2 separate regions of the Homo sapiens genome follow, and region 1 is linked to region 2. Evidence: fine-mapped expression QTL. Tissue or cell type: whole blood. Region 2 holds a variant in brackets; the other region holds the start of a gene. All regions are shown on one strand. Distances are from middle to middle.

Region 1 (8,214 bases), 92 kb after region 2:
ATCTTTACCAGGAACAAAACAATCAATAATTTTGGGAGAAAGGGAACTTATCCAGTCCCAGAAATTAAACTTCAATATGAAATGACTCTGAAGGGCTTTCTGCCCACTGAAATCCTCTCCAGGCAGACCTGTGCTCTGGCTGTCTTTGCACATTTGCTGTGTATGTGTGACAAGGCCATTGGCGGTACTCTGGACTAGCTCCGGATGTTGCACCCAAGGACCCTGGAAGTCAGGGTACGACCAGGTTGATGAGCAATCATCCTATTGTTTAAAGACCCTAAACTGAAAGCCTTCATAATATGCAGGGTTGTTTCCTGGACTGGACACTCCTCTACCCCTACAATTACAGTCTGCATTCATGAACTACCCCATAGAGCCTTCATGATCCATAAACATTTAAAAGTTTTCCTTTTAGAGAGAATGAAAAAAATGTGAGAGTCACTGGTACAGGAAGGACCAAACAATTGGGTCTCTGTGGTTTTGGGGGCCTAGGTCATCCAGGCCTCTATTCAATTGGCAAAGAATCTGGCGGGATGAATCAGTCTAGCAGCTGACAAAACGATGAGGAAGGGCCGCCCAAGCTGATGGCAATTCAAAAAGGCTTTCAAACAGCTCCTTAACATGTGTCTTATGAGCTTTATTTAAATTTGATGGAAAGGCCACCAAATAGTTCTTTCAAGCTTCAAAATCTCCCTTCTGATCTGCCAATCTTTACGGAAGAAAAGGGAAGCTATGAGGAATAAGTGTTATCTTCATCACTGAGAGTGCTACACAGCTATGCGTCGCACACAAATTCTCCAGTATATAAGCTTGCCTATTCCCATGTTGTCCCTGCCTAGAACAATGGCAAAATGCAGCCTAGGGCAAGTTGAGGGTATTGCTGAATTCTCAGCTGGGTAAGCACAGCATGGAGCTATCAATTTAAAGCAAAACCAAATCAGCTTTTTGCTGATGTCATTTTACCAATAATTCCAGCTCCATCATGCAGTCTATTACCAGAGTAACTTGACTTCCCTAGGCAACCTACGAAGAAGTTGCTAAGCAATAAAAATACTTATTAGGGAGAGGAGAAAGTCACAATCAGCACAAAGTTTAGGTAGCTAGATAACTGAAAGCTGGCGCTGCCACTTCAGGGTGACAGTGCCAGATACTGGAACAGAGAAACCACATAAAAAGGACTTCCATCCTAGAGTCCCTTCTCCACACAGCAGCCCAGGGAGCCTTTTACAAAAGAAGCTGAATCACAATCCCTCTGTTCAAAGCTCTCTGTTGTGGGCTGAATTATGTCTCTCAAAATGATATGTTAAAGTCCCAACTCCTAGTACCTATGAATGTGACCTTATCTAGAAATAGTATCTCTGAAGATGTTACCAAGTTAAGATGAGGTCAAACTGGATTAGGGTGGGCCCTAACTTCAACGACTGGTGTCCTCACAGGAAGGGCACGGTAAGACAGATACATAGGGAGAAGATGGCCATGTGTTGAGACAGAGACTGGAGTTCTGCTGCCACAAGCCAAAGAACACAAAGGATTGCAGACACCCAGCAGAGGCTAGAAGAGGCAAGGACAGACTTCCTGGAGCCTTCAGAAGAGCAAGGCCCTGCCAACACCTTGACTTGAGACTTCTGGTTCTGATTTCAATTATCCAGGACTGTGAGAGAATAATTTCTGTTATTGTAAGCCGCTAAGTTACTCTGTTATGGCAGCCCTTGGAAATGCATATGCCCTCCAGTGGCTTTCCACCTTACTGAAAACCAAATCCTCACTGCAGCAGCATCTGGACCTCCTCTGACCACGCTGACTTCAGCTCCTCCTGCTCTCTGAGTAGTCAGTCCACACTGACCTCCTGGCTGGTCCTCAAACTGTACCATGAACCCTCCACCTTACGGCCTCCCTGCAGCAGGCTGGTGCTGTCAGACCTTTGCAGATGCCACTCCTTCTGCTGGAAGGGTTCCCACCTCAGGAACCTCCAAGGCCTGCTCCCTCAATCTGCCTTCAGGTCTCTGTTCAAGTCACCTAATCATGAATGCCCCCACTAACTCCCCTTCAGCCTTCCCTATCCCCACTCCATATTCCCTATTCTCTTCCCCTGCTTTATTTTTCTCCACAGTGCTTCACACAAGCTGACATAGATATTTTGCTTAACCCTTCACAGGTTCTCCCTCCACAATGTTAGCTCGAGAGAGCAGGACTTCACTGCTGAATCACAGTGCACTCTATTTAGTAAATAAGCATATGAATTCTGTTGGGATAGGTGAAATTTTATTCTGAACTGGCTGTGTGACAAAAAAGGTTTCTACTAATTAAGTGAGACAACGGAAGCTCCTGCAGATGAAGGGCTGGGCTCTGAGGGGCTGGGAGGGAATCCATGTGCCAGGTTTTCCTAAGTAGACTGAAGGGCTCTCACCACATCCCTGCATGGAAGTGGGCGAGGTGAGTGATTCCGAAAAAGCCTCTTAAGAACCTCCCTATCAAAAATTAAGTCAAGTCTTACCTGTAATTTTTGTCTCCAGCCACACCCCAGTAGAAAGCAACTTAGCCTGAGGAATTTGTGAAGTCAAATATAAACATGATCTTCCTACTTCATTACTATACATATTTTTTTAGGGGCTGAGGAGAAAGGCCTAGTAGGAATGTTTGATAATGATAATCTTATACTGCAAATGCACAAACTCTACTCAGAGGAGAAAGCCTCGATCACCACACCCCTAAAAATACATAAGCCAGGAGGTTTCAAACAGCTCTTTCTTAGTCAAACTCTCTTAAATGGTCCTAAATTTACACTTTTTTCCTTCCTTCATTGATATTTTTCAAAACTTTTGAAACAAAACAGGCAGGAAAAATGCAAGTTTTTCTTTACCTTGGCTTTTGGCCCCAGGTCCTGCCAATCCGAGTGATGGATCACAGGACTCCTTGAAAGGTGATCGGATCGGGGTTTCAGCTTCAGGAGTCTCAAAATTACCTTCAGAATCCGAGCTGCCAAGGAGGAAAAATGAGGAATTACCACTTTCAACGGTATTTCCGACACCCTTTGAAATCTACATATTCACAGAGGCTAAAAGTCCAGCACTTTTGTCTAACTTCACAACCAACCGGTCCTCAGCAGGGTCTGACCTGCGGGAGGCAACTGCGGTCTCTGAGCAGTGCCCTCCTTGGGTTTCTCAGGCTGGCATCCTGTCTCTCTGAAAGCTCCTCCATTCCCTGGAGCTTTTCTCCAGCACCATTTATTTTCGAGGTCATCCTTCCCTCAGACACCTGAAAAATGCGCTTTTCCAACAGACTCCTTTTGTCACAAGAGCCCTTTCCCAGAGGCTTTAACAATTAATACTGGTCCCACCCCCGAGTTAGGCCGATGCTAGGCATTCCTCTTTGCTCGGTAGGCCTCTACCTGCTGGAACTCCCTGGGCCCGAGGCTAAGAATGGTGTCACCTGCCTTCCGCAATCACGCGGATGACAGCCCGGCAGAGACCACCATTTCCCAGCAGCTGCCAGGGGCCTGTCATCACGCGACCTTCTTCACCGCGGCTGCGTTTTGGGTACACGGTAGGGCCCCGGGAAGGGCCGGGGAGCGACTTCTTCCCCACGGGGGGGCCCTAAGTTGCACTGGGTTAGATCAGTGACGTTGCTCCAGTGTGGAGGGGCGGGGGCTGGGGGTCGAAGCTTAGAGAAAGTGACCGAGGCCAGCGGGGATGCGGAGAGACTGCAGATTCTGGGTTGGGTGCGGAACTCTCCTAGCGAAACGGGGGCCAGAAACCCCACGGGAGGACAGAAGATCCTGAACTTTCGGACGCACACGGGGACCCGGCTCCGGGCAGGGACGCGGCACGGCCGTGAGGACGGTTTCGCGGGTGGCGACCACACACACGCACACAGAGGGAGTCGCAGATGGATGGAGGCAAGCGCGTCTGCATCTCAGCGGGGACGCCGTGTACTTGCCTGAAACTCAAGGATTTGGTCTCGGCTTGCGAATCCTCCTCCTCGGGGTCGCCCTCGGGCCCGCCAGCCTCGTCCTCGCCGGCGGCCCCGCCGCGTACCGCAGACCACGTCCATTTCGCCCACTGCACGGGGGACAGGATCTGCCACGGGCTGAACGCCATGAGCGCGGCTCCTCCGGCTCCAGCTCCTAGGGGCAGGGGAATGGGTGGGGAGAGCCTTTTTCCCTTTCAAAATGGAGGGAACCGGTGACAGGCGCCAGCAAGCGTTTCCAGCAGAGGCGCGGATGTGGTTAAACGAGTGCCGTCGGGGGCCCTGGTGGAGCGCTTCCTCCCGCCGGCAGCCGGCGCTGCGTCCTCCTCGGCCTCCTCCCCTCACGGTGCGGCCGCAGCGGGCCCCGCGCCGGGCTCCACTAGCCGGGAAGACGCCCGTCCTGTGGCCTCCTCAGGCCCCCGGCCCGCGGCGCCCGGCTGCTAGACCTCTGCTGCTCCCGCTCCCGGCTCGCGGACTCCCGCCTCCCGGCCGGCGGGGCGCGCATCAGCTGCCGCCGGAGCCGCGCCCCAGAAGCCGCCCCCTCGGACCGTACTACTCGCGCGCGCGCGCGGGGGCGGCGGCGGCGCCGGGGCTTTGAAGACGGCCGCGCGCCCGCCGGATCCCCCTACCGCGGCGTCACGCTGGTCGCGGCCCGACTGAGGGCCGGGGCTTGCCGGCTGCGCGGGGAGATTCGGTCATACCCCACAGGTCCGCCGGCGTCCGGGGCAGAGGAGGACCGTTTTCTGAGCCGGGGCACGCTGTCCTCTTCCTCTTTCCTTATTCCTTTTTAAAATTTTTTTAAACATTTTCATCTTGCCACTGTGACTTCACGGCGATGGTGATATTGGACTGCACACAAGCCCCTTGTTACCAAAAAAAAAAAAATACAAACCTTCGCGGCCGCTGTGGACTGTTGTTTTCCCCTCCCTAACCCTGGCAGCGTGGGGGATTTCAGCCTGTTCATCTCCATCCCTGGCATTCCCGGGATTTGAAAATCCCTTGGCAAAGCCACAAGAGTGACCGAGGACTGGAATTTAAGATGCCCTCCCCCTCCCCAAACCGCACTCGGGGAGGCTTCCCAAGTGCCCAGGTCTTGTCTTAGGTAAAGGGTACTAAATTCCCTGTGAGATTACAGCCTGATGGGTTTCCCATTCTCCATATTTATTTATTTAAAATACAGACAGGCGTCTCGATATGTTGCCCAGGCTGGTCTTGAACTCTTGGCCACAAGCGATCCTCCCGCCTCTGCCTCCCAAAATGCTAGGATTCCAGGCCTGACACCGCGCCTGACCCCATTCTCCTTTTTGAGATTTTCTTTTCGTAACTTCTAAGTCTTTGATTTCTGACTTATTTCGCTGCTTCAGTAACAAGCCAAGAGGCCTGGCGACATCTTTAGGTTTGAAGGCAATGGGAAATAGCTGATGTTCTCCATTTCCCATGGAGGGATTTCATGTAGGGATTGTTCCTCTCAAAACCACCAAAGCACCTTCTTCCAAGTGAATCGATTGCCTCAAACACCAGGCTTAATGATCTCCTTGCCTGGATAAGGTGTTCCAGGTGGTACTGTAATTTCCGAGTTGTGGTGCATCCATGAGGTGCCTGCAGGTTCCCACAGAGACAGCAGCTCCAAAATGTGCACGTTGAAACTTGCAAGAGACTAACCGTTGCCTCTGAAAGCAGTTGGCATGTATATTCATCGTGACTGTTTTACACATTTGATAACAAAAACAGGAGCAAAATACAAGATAAGGCTTGGCAGGGTAGTTTTACCAAAACCGAAGGGCAGGAGTTAACCTGAAGTCTAGAGAAAAGAAAGGGGTGGGGTGTCAGGATGCTTTCGAATTCATCCTGGCTTCTTCCCAGAAATAAATTGTCATGAGTGTTCTAGCGACTATAAAGAAGTGAACTAGGCAGGAGGTCCATGTGAAATATATCACACCACTTATCCAACTGTTGTAGTTTTAGGTTTATGCTTACCCAGTAAAACTTCAGGTTCTACAGTCCCCCAGGCTCCTGGATTTGACACAGGGTTCTGTTTCTGGGAAATAATATTACCCCAGCAAATCAGTAACTAGCATACACTAGGACCTGTTCTTCCTCCTGAATAGTTCTCTTATCTTTTCATTCCTTTGCATCCCTGTGGTGACTGACATAGTTCCCGCACTCCCCATCTTTCATGATCTACTGTAAATAACTCCCACCTGGTTTTACCTCTGAAGGTTTTCTTGCCTGAGGTCACCCCTGCCTGGCTGATCAGTGACTCGTGCTCTAATCTTTCGGTTCCCATTCCCCTCTATGCCCATCCTTTTGTATTCCTAGCCACAGTGAGTAGAGAACTCGTTGTCAATCTTTAATATGCCCAAGAATCATCCGCCAGCCTTCTTAAAAAAATCCAAATTGCCAGCAGAGTCTGGAAATCTGTGTGTTCACTAAGTGTCCTGGGGAACTGTTATCACAGGGTAAATTTGGGAAACAGTGCCTAGCTTGAACCAACTGCTTACTGCTTCGGGAACAGTCTCCCTTTGCCTGCAGAGGGAGCTTTGCGAATTCCTGGAACACACCTCCTCCCCCACCCCAGCCCACCCCAAGTTCCCAGGCTTCAGCTGCTCGAACGTCCTTCAGCACTTAGCTCAAGTGTCTACAGGGGGAAGCAGGCTCATTGTCCTTCCTTTCTATCATTTCTATACCCCGAACATCCATAAAGAACACTTCCTGTGGCCTTAGATCTGAAAGTGAAAGACAGCATTCTTAATAGTTACACAGGGACTATAGGCATAAACCAGGACTGTCTCCAGAAGACCAGGATGTAAGGCCATTCTACACTTAGCACACCATATATAACATATTTATTTACATATCTGTCCCACAAGCTTCTAAAGGGACTTTACCCCCCTTTGGGACTTCCTCCAGAAATTAGGACAGAACCACACACTCAGTAGGTGTTCAATATATATGTAAGAAAAAACAAACATTCTAGTTTACAAATAGTCCTTGTGAGTTTGGCTAAGGTGACATAAATTCCTAAAGCCTGACTCCCCCTGGGGAAATCTAGTTTCTGGGCCAGAAAATAACAGAACCCAGGACCAAGTGATGGCCCCAGTAAGATTAAGCCTCACCTATGCAGCAATTTACTTTTTTTTTTTTTTGAGATGGAGTCTCACTCTGTCACCCAGGCTGGAGCACGGTGGTGCAGTCTCAGCTGACTGCAACCTCCGCCTCCTGGGTTCAAGCGATTCTCCCTGCCTCAGCCTCCCAAGTAGCTGGGATTACAGGTTCCTGCCACCATGCCCAGCTAATTTTTTTATTTTTTAGTAGAGACGGGGTTTCATCATGTTGGCCAGGCTGGTCTTGAACTCCTGACCTCAGGTGATCCACCCACTTCCAAAGTTCTGGGATTATAGGTGTGAGCCACCGCACCCGGCCTGCAGCAACTTCTTGAGACTGGACTAGCAAATAAATGCCTAAGGTTTCTGAAAATCACTCCTCTGCAAGTTCTTGAACTTAGTGTAAGCAGTAATGAATATGAGTCCATTAGCTGGACCACTCCTCTCAGTCTGCTGCTCCTAGTCCTGGCTTCGTTCTTACCTGGTACAGGTTGCAAAGTCACAACTAGGAACACTCTAGCCCTGTCAGTGAAGACGTGCCATTGCCAACAGGAGGCTGTGGCCACCCTATCTGCTTTTCTGCCCTACCTCAGTCTAACCAGGCAAGGGCATGATGATGTCTAATCAAGACAACATTGCCAATAACAGCATCTGACCGCATTCAAATATGTTAACATGACAGTCTTAACCTTGCAAGATCAGATATTTACCTAATTATCCTTTACCTGTAGACTACAAACATCTATAGAATTACAATCTTCCCTCCACTACCCAAACACCGAAATCAGGACTGTGTACAATGCATTTATACAGAAAATTATAAAGAGAAGCTCCTTTCTAATTTTTTAAAAGAGAGGTGTCAGGGTATGTTCATAGCTAATACTCTTTCAGGCTGGGTGCGGTGGCTCATGCCTGCAATCCCACACTTTGGGAGGCCAAGGCAGGCAGATCACTTAAGGTCAGGAGTATGAGACCAGCCTGGCCAACATGGTGAAACTCCATCTCTACTAAGAATATAAAAATAGCCAGGTGTGGTGGCAGGCGCCTGTAATTCCAGCTACTCGGGAGGCTGAGGCAGGAGAATCACTTGAACCGGGGAGGCAGAGATTGCGGTGAGCCGAGATCATGCCACTGTACTTCAGCC
Region 2 (8,214 bases):
GGTGGCAGCCACCTTGCCTGGCTGTTGAAATGCATCTTTATTAAAAGACAAAATATCACCAGATCTGTAGATGTAACCACCCCACCCTCAGTCCCCTCCGACACCCACCTCCGACCCATTTCCACCCCATCTCAGCCCTTCCTTAGCTAGCATCTGTAGACTCTGGCAAATGTTTGTTATTGACAAGAAAAAGGAAAGGGAAAAAAAATGAGAACAAGAAAAAGGACCGCACACCTAAGAGTTTTCTATGGTTTGGGGCAGTTTTGTTTTTCTTTTTTCTCTTTTTTTTTTTTTTTTTTTTTTTGCGATGGAGTCTCTCTGTGTTGCCCAGGCTGGAGTGCAGTGGTGTGATCTCGGCTCACTGCAAGCTCCGACTCCCAAGTTCACGCCATTCTCCTGCCTCAGCCTCCCGAGTAGCTGGGACTACAGGCGCCCGCCACCACGCCCGGCTAATGTTTTGTATTTTTAGTAGAGACGGAGTTTCACCGTGTTAGTCAGGATGGTCTCGATCTCCTGACCTCGTGATCTGCCCGCCTTGGCCTCCCAAAGTGCTGGGATTACAGGTGTGAGCTACTGCACCCGGCCTCGTTTTTCTTTCTTTTGTTTTTAAGGTTTTAAAGGTTTCTCTTTGAAAAGATGGTATCACAGAACATACAGAACTGCTCTGAAAATGCAACTTAATTTGCAAAATGCTGCATCAAAATATTACAGTCATGGAATCTAATGAATTGAGCATGCGTTCATGAAACTTAAAAAATACTGAGCAATGCATTGAAAAAAGCATGGTAAAAAAAAGACAACTCAAGTTAAATAAAAATTGCAAAGGTCCTGAACCAATTAATGGTTGGTGACAATGTCATTCAAAAATGCCTTTAGGTTTCAATGAAATCCACCATTTATTTCTGCATGCCTAGTTCTTGAAAAAACTGTTTGAAGTTGTGAGGTAGGTAATGGCCAGGAATTATCATGCTGAGTTAATTTTACACCTCAAAGGTACAAGTTTGCCATACTTAAAGCTCTTGTTAGGCCAGGCGCAGCGGCTCACTTCTAACACTTTTGGGAGGCCAAGGCAGGTGGATTACCTGAGGTCAGGAGTTCAAGACCAGCCTGGCCAACATGATGAAACTCCGTCTCTAATAAAAATACAAAAGTTAGCCGGGCATGGTGGCAGGCGCCTGTAATCCCAGCTACCTGGGAGGCTGAGGCAGGAGAATCACTTGAACCTGGGGGGCAGACATTGCAGTGAGCCGAGATCACGCCATTGCACTCCAGCCTGGGCAACAAGAGCGAAACTCCATTTCAAAACAAAACAAAACAAAACAAAAGTTCTTGTTGATTCTGGCATGAGTTGCTTTTCAGTAAAAGACAATAGTCAACTAATAAGAATGGCATGAGATAGGATATGTAACAATTTCACCGTTCATATACTCACTTTCTGTTTCCTGGTTATATTTTGATTTTTAATAAAGATACATTTCAACAGCTAGGCAAGGTAGCTCACACTTGTAATCCCACTGTTTTGTGCAGCCCCGAAGGGAGGATTGCTTGAACCCAGGAGTTTGAGGCCAACCTGGGCAATGGATCAAAACTCCTACCCTACAAAAAATTTTCAAAATTAATCAGGCATGATTCTACACCTGTAGTCCCATCTTCTTGGGAGAGTGAGGTGGAGGATCACTTGAGCCCAGGAGTTTGAGGCCAACCTGGGCAATGGATCAAAACTCCCACCCTACAAAAAATTTTCAAAATTAATCAGGCATGATTCTACACCTGTAGTCCCATCTTCTTGGGAGAGTGAGGTGGAGGATCACTTGAGCCCAGGAATTGGAGGCTGCAGTGAGCTATGATTGCACCACTGCATTCCAGCCTGGGTGACAGAGTGAGACCCTGTCTCTGAAAAAAAAAAAAAAAAAACATTTCCAAGAGCTCCATGGGAAGCAGAATTTTTGGTGCCCTGGGACAGATTCAGTTCAAGCTTTTCATGACTTTGTTTCCCCTTGCCCTTTTCTTGCTGAAGGCAGTGCTCACAAAATTGTTTTTTTTATTTGTTTTTTTGTTTGTTTATTTGCTTGCTTGTTTTTTGAGATGGAGTCTCACTCTGTTGCCCAGGCTGGAGTGCAGTGATCTCAGCTCACTGCAACCTCCGCCTCCCAGGTTCAAGTGATTCCCCTGTCTCAGCCTCCCAAGTAGCTGGGATTACAGGCACCCGCCACCACACCCAGCTAATTTTCATATTTTTAATAGAGACAGGGTTTCGCCATGTTGGCCAGGCTGGTCTCAAACTCCTGACCTCAAGTGATCCGCCCTCCTGGGCCTCCAAAAGTGCTGAGATTATAGGTGTGAGCCACCGCACCCAGTCCATTTACTTTTTTTTTTTTTTAATTTAAGCAGGCTGCTGTGGAACCAATTGTTATATTCTTTGGAAAAGCAGTTTTCAAGAGCCTTAAAATATTTTTATCATTTGGCCCAGTGATTCCCACTCTGGAAATCTATCCAAAGAAAATGATCTAAAATGCAAGTGAGAAAAAATTGAACATAATGTGTTATGGGACTGAATTATGCCTCCCCCCAACCCCTAATTCACATGTTAAAACCCTAACGCCAGTAACTCAAAATTGACTGTATTTGGAAGTAGGGCCTTTATAGAGGTGATTAAGTTAAACAGAGTCTATTAAAATAGGCCCTAATTCAATCTGAGTAGTGTTTATATAAGAAGAGGAAATTTGAACACATAAAGAAACACCAGGGATGCCCAAATACGGAAGAAAGACAGTGCAGACACAGGAAGGAGGTGACCAATGGCAAGCCCAGGAAGGGGGCCTGGGCAGAAACCAACCCTGCTCCCACCCTGATCTTGGACTTCCAGCCTCCAGACAGTGAGAAAAAAAATTTCTGTTGCCTAAGCCACCTAGGTCTGTTGTACTTTGTTATGGTGGCCCTAGCAAACTAATAGACAATGATTTTTAAAATAATTATATATATTTAAAATAGAGAACAATTAGAAATGGCCTAAATGTTCAACAATTGGGAAAAGAGTATCATACCATCATCAAAATGCTGAGGGTGTATGGAAAAAACAGCTTACAAGATAATGTTTAGCCAAAAAAAGCAAGATGCCAGGCACAGTGCCTCTCACTTGCAGTCCTATCTACTTGGGAGGCTGAAAGAAGAGGATCACTTGAGACCAGGAGTTCGAGACCAGCCTGGACAACATAGCAAGACCCCAACTCTAAAATAAAAAACATCATATGTACCCCATAAA[T/C]ATGTACAACTATGATGTACCATAATTAATAAAAGTAAAATAATTTTGAAAAATTATATGTTGTCATATGGGTTATTTTTTAAAAAGCAAGATACATTTTATTTTATTATTATTTTTTAAGACAGTCTTGCTCTGTTTCCTAGGCTGGAGTGCAGTGGTGCGATCTCGGCTCACTGCAAGCTCCGCCTCCCAGGTTCAAGCCATTCTCCTGCCTCGGCCTCTCTAGTAGCTGGGACTACAGGCTCCCGCAACCACGCCCGGCTAATTTTTGTATTTTTAGTAGAGGTGGGGTTTCACCATACTGGCCAGGCTGGTCTCGAATTCCTGAACTCAAATGATCCACTCGGCCTCCCAAAGTGCTGAGATTACAGGTGTGAGCCACTGTGCCTGGCCACAAGATACATTTCATACACACACACACATAAATGCATATATATATGTATATATATATACCCATATATATATATGTATATATACCCATATATATATGTATATATATATACCCATATATATATGTATATATATATACCCATATATATATACCCATATATATGTATATATACCCATATATATGTATATATATATACCCATATATATGTATATATATATACCCATATATATATGTATATATATATACCCATATATATATATGTATATATATATACCCATATATATGTATATATATACCCATATATATATGTGTATATATATACCCATATATATGTATATATATGTGTATATATATACCCATATATATGTATATATATGGGTATATATATATGCCCATATATATATATGTATATATATATGCCCATATATATATATATATGATTTTGACTATGCTTTATAAAGCCTGTGGTCAGGGGGAAAAAACTAGGAGGAAAAAAAGCTCATTGTAGTATTGTTTTAGAAGATGATGATGATGATTTATATTCTCCTTTCTCCATTGAAGAGTTAAACCTATTGTTATTTGAAATACACCTTATTTAAATAAGCAGGTAAAATAGGGCACTCTGTAAGTGGACCTGTATGAATGTACTCTTACAGAGAGTAGACTTCTGAAAGGAGACAGTATTGTTTGGACTGAGGATGTGGTTCTTGGTCTCAACTGCACCAACTGTATTGATAAAATTCCTGCCCACATATCCCCATGTTCAGTGCAGCAGGTTAAAAGCTGTTGTGCACGTCATGCCTTTTTTTTTTTTTTTTTTTTTTTTTGAGACAGGGTCTTACTCTTTTTTTTGTTCGTTTGTTTGTTTGTTTTATTTTGTTTTGTTTTTTGAGACAGGGTCTTACTCCGTTGCCCAGGCTGGAGTGCAGTGGTGCAATCACAGCTCACTGCAGCCTCCACCTCCTGGGCTCATGCAATCCTCCCACCTAGCCTCCAGAGTAGCTGGGACCACAGGTGCATACCACCATGCCCAGCTAATTTTTTAAAATATTTGTAGGGATGAGGTCTCACTATGTTGCCCAGGCTGGTCTCAAACTTCTGGGATTAAGTAATCTTCTTGCCTCAGCCTCCCAAAGTGCTGGAATTACAGGTATGACTCACTGCACTTGGCCTGGATATCATTCTTTAATTGGTCCCAGGGTGACTGAAACCCTTTGTCTTTTTCTCAGAGAGGACAGGCAAGGGCAGATGTCTCCCACTTGGCCTTCTACATGCTCTTCTCTGAGCTCTGCCATGATGGGTTCTCATCTAGTCAGCCTGGGAGCAAACCACGCCTAGGAGGCACGGGGAAGGCTGGCAGGTCCCTGCAGCTCAATGTCCCTTCTATCCCTCAGAGAGATGCATTCTCAGAAAGAAACTGCACTCATGTCTCCTCTCCTTTGCACCCATACCCTTTCCATTTTCCTCTGATGGATGTCTTTCCTTTGACTGCAATCATCATGCATGTGGACAGCTCCTGAGTATGTGTCTGCAGCTTGAGCCTTTCTACTTCTCTCTACATTCCTGTATCGAATTGCACGCTGGTCTTCTACCTCCAAATGCCCCAAACCTAATATACCTAAAACTCGCCTTGTTGACTTTGTCTCATAAACTTCTCTCTCTTGCATTCCCTGTCTCTATAATAAAGACATAACTTCCACCCCGTCACTCAAGCTAGGAACCGAAATGTCATTGTCACTCCTTCTCTCTCACCACCCACAGCCAATTAGTCATCGAGCCGTATCGATTCCCACTGCCTACACCCCTTCCATCTCCTCCTCCCTGCTCCTGGCTCCTCCTCGCCTTAGTTCAGGCTCATGTTAGTCCTTGTTTGGGTCATTCACTCATTCAGGCTCTGGGGGCATGTTGGTGAATAAGATAGGAATGAGTCCTTCCCTCATGAAGCTTGTGGGTACGAAAGACAATAATCAAACAAAAGAATCCCATGTTTATGATGTATCAGAGCAATATGAAGAATATAACTGTTTGCTTGAAGAAGGGGAAATTAAAATTGAGACTGAGAAGAAAGTTTCGCAGAGAGAGCTCAAAGACAAACACTCCAAGAAAGAGAAACAGCAAACAAATGCAAGGCCCTGAGGTGAAAAGATCTCGCCATATTGGAGGGGCTTCGGTTGCCATATTGCTCTGAGAGGAAAAGTGGAACCAGGTGGCATGGAGAAGTGGGCAGGGCCCTTCTGGGCAACAATGAGAAGTCTGGATCTTTTATTATTGTTTATTTATTTTGAGACAGAGTGTCGCTCCATCACCAGGCTGGAGTGTAGTGGTGCCATCTCAGCTCCCTGCAACCTCCACCTCCCGGGTTCAAGTGATTCTCCTGCCTCAGCCTCCTGAGTAGCTGGGACTATAGGCATGCACCACCACACCCAGCTGTTTTTTGTTTTTTTGGTTTTTTTTTAGTAGAGATGGGGTTTCACCATGTTGCCCAGGCTGGTCTTGAACTCCTGGCCTCAGGTGATCCACCCACCTCGGCCTCCCAAAGGGCTGGGATTCCAGGCATGAACCACCATGCCCAGCCAGAAGTCTGGATTTTACCTTAAGCTGTTGAAAAGTGTTAATCAGGAGGGTGACCTGTCTCCCTGGGCCTTCCATATCTCTTCAATCCTTCTTCAACATGGCTTCAAGGTTGGTCTTTCCAGGACAAGTATCTGATCATGTCTCTCTGGGTTTTAAAAATTTCCAGTGGCTCCCATTTGCCTGCTGTTAACACCTAAACTGCTTAGCTTGGCCTACAAGGCCCTGAATGCTCTCGCCCCATGTTTCGCTCCATCCTTATTTTTCCTTGTGTCTCTTTATCTCCTTTGCCTGGCCATGCCAAGCAACTTCCAGGTTGCCTCGTGGGTTCTGCCATGTCTTTTCTCAGGATGCATCTCTCTGGGTACAGCATTCCCTACGCCATCCATCATCAAACAAAAATCTACACATCCTGCAAGCCGAAGGTCAAATGTCACCTCATCTTTCCTGATCACTACCCCCCAGATAGAATGGACTGTTCCCACAGGGCATGGTGGCTCATGTCTGTAATCCCAGTTACTTGGCAGGCTGAGGGAGGAGGATAGCTTGAGCCCAGGAGTTGGAGGCCAGCATGGGCAACATAGTGAGACCCCCATCACTAAAGAAAAAAAAATTGTTTTAAATGGATGATTCCCTCCTCTGCATCCTCAATGTTTGACAGCACGTGTCTGTTTACATGCATCTCTCCCTGTTCACACATGACCCTTTGTTACTCATATTTATTCCCTACCATTGAGCACAGAGCTTGGAGTACTTTATTGTGTAAAAAGAACGGATTTCCCCTGTTTTGCATATTTAGATTACACATGATAGTTTTGCCAAAGGAGCAGGAAACCAGATGCTTGAAGCTCAGTGAGAATTTCTATTTTTTTTTTTTTTATATGGAGTCTTACTCTGTCACCCGGGCTGCAGTGCAGTGGCATGATCTCAGCTCACTGCAACCTCCGCCTCCTAGGTTCAAGCAATTCTCCTGCCTCAGCCTCCTGAGTAGCTGGGATTACAGGCACCCGCCACTACGCCCTGCTAATTTTTTTTTTTTTTTGTATCTTTAGTAGAGATGGGATTTCACCATGTTGGCCATCCTGACCTAGTGATTCACCTGCTTCAGCCTCCCAAAGTGCTAGGATTACAAACATGAGGATTTTAATGAACATGTCAGTTGAGACTTATAGCAGATCTGTCTTTGAGCTGCCAGTATTCCCAACATAAGCTACATCCACACGTTGAGCCCCATTGGCAAGGAGGGAACTTGGAAGGAGTTTGAGCAAGTAAAAATACCTATGGGGCACAAGCTATTTTGAAGCCTATTTACTTGTTAGCCACCTCTCATCATTCTACAGTGTCCGCACCATTTCCACAGTCCTCATCCAATCACAGATGGTACCAGGGGATGCATTAGCTGCTTGAAGCAGGACTGTCAGAGACAGAATTTGTCACTTCATAATTCCTGCTAAAGCCGGACATGGTGGCTTGCACCTGTAATCCCAGCAATTTGGGAGGCTGAAGTAGGAGGAACTTGAGGCCAGGAGTTCAAGACGAGCCTGGGCAATATAGCAAGACCACATCTCTACAAAAACATTTAAAAATGGCCGGGTGCGGTGACTTACACCTGTAATCCCAGCACTTTGGGAGGCCGAGGCGGGTGGATCATGAGGTCAAGAGATTGAGACCATCCTGGCTAACATGGTGAAACCTCGTCTCTACTAAAAATACAAAAATTAGCTGGGCATGGTGGCATGCACGTGTAGTCCCAGTCACTCAGGAGGCTGAGGCAGGAGAATCACCTGAACCCGGAAGGTGGAGGTTGCAGTGAGCTGAGATCACGCCACTGCACTCCAGCCTGGCAACAGAACGAGACCCTGTCCCCGCCCCCCCGCAAAAAAATTAAAAATTAGCTGGGTGTGGTGGCGTGCCTGTAGTCCCAGCTACTCAGGGAGCTGAGGTGGGAGGACTGCTTGAGCCCAGGAGGTTGAGGATGCAGTGAGCCATG

The links. PIP is the estimated chance that this variant, and not a neighbour inherited with it, causes the effect.
Region 1: it holds the start of TACC1, and the variant in region 2 is fine-mapped to the expression of TACC1 in whole blood (INTERVAL, PIP above 0.99).

Annotation. Positions count from the first base shown.
Region 1 is chr8:38,783,466-38,791,679 of GRCh38, reverse strand. TACC1 (transforming acidic coiled-coil containing protein 1) reads right to left here and starts at 4,444. Exons shown (of 13, transcript NM_006283.3): 1 at 3,937-4,444; 2 at 2,861-2,976. The coding sequence starts at 4,097. RefSeq lists a silencer at 4,181-4,720 and an enhancer at 4,761-4,840.
Region 2 is chr8:38,875,342-38,883,555 of GRCh38, reverse strand. No RefSeq gene overlaps it. Among named protein-coding and RNA genes, the nearest start is that of PLEKHA2, 22 kb to the left of the region's middle. The variant T/C (reference allele first, on the strand shown) is at 3,263.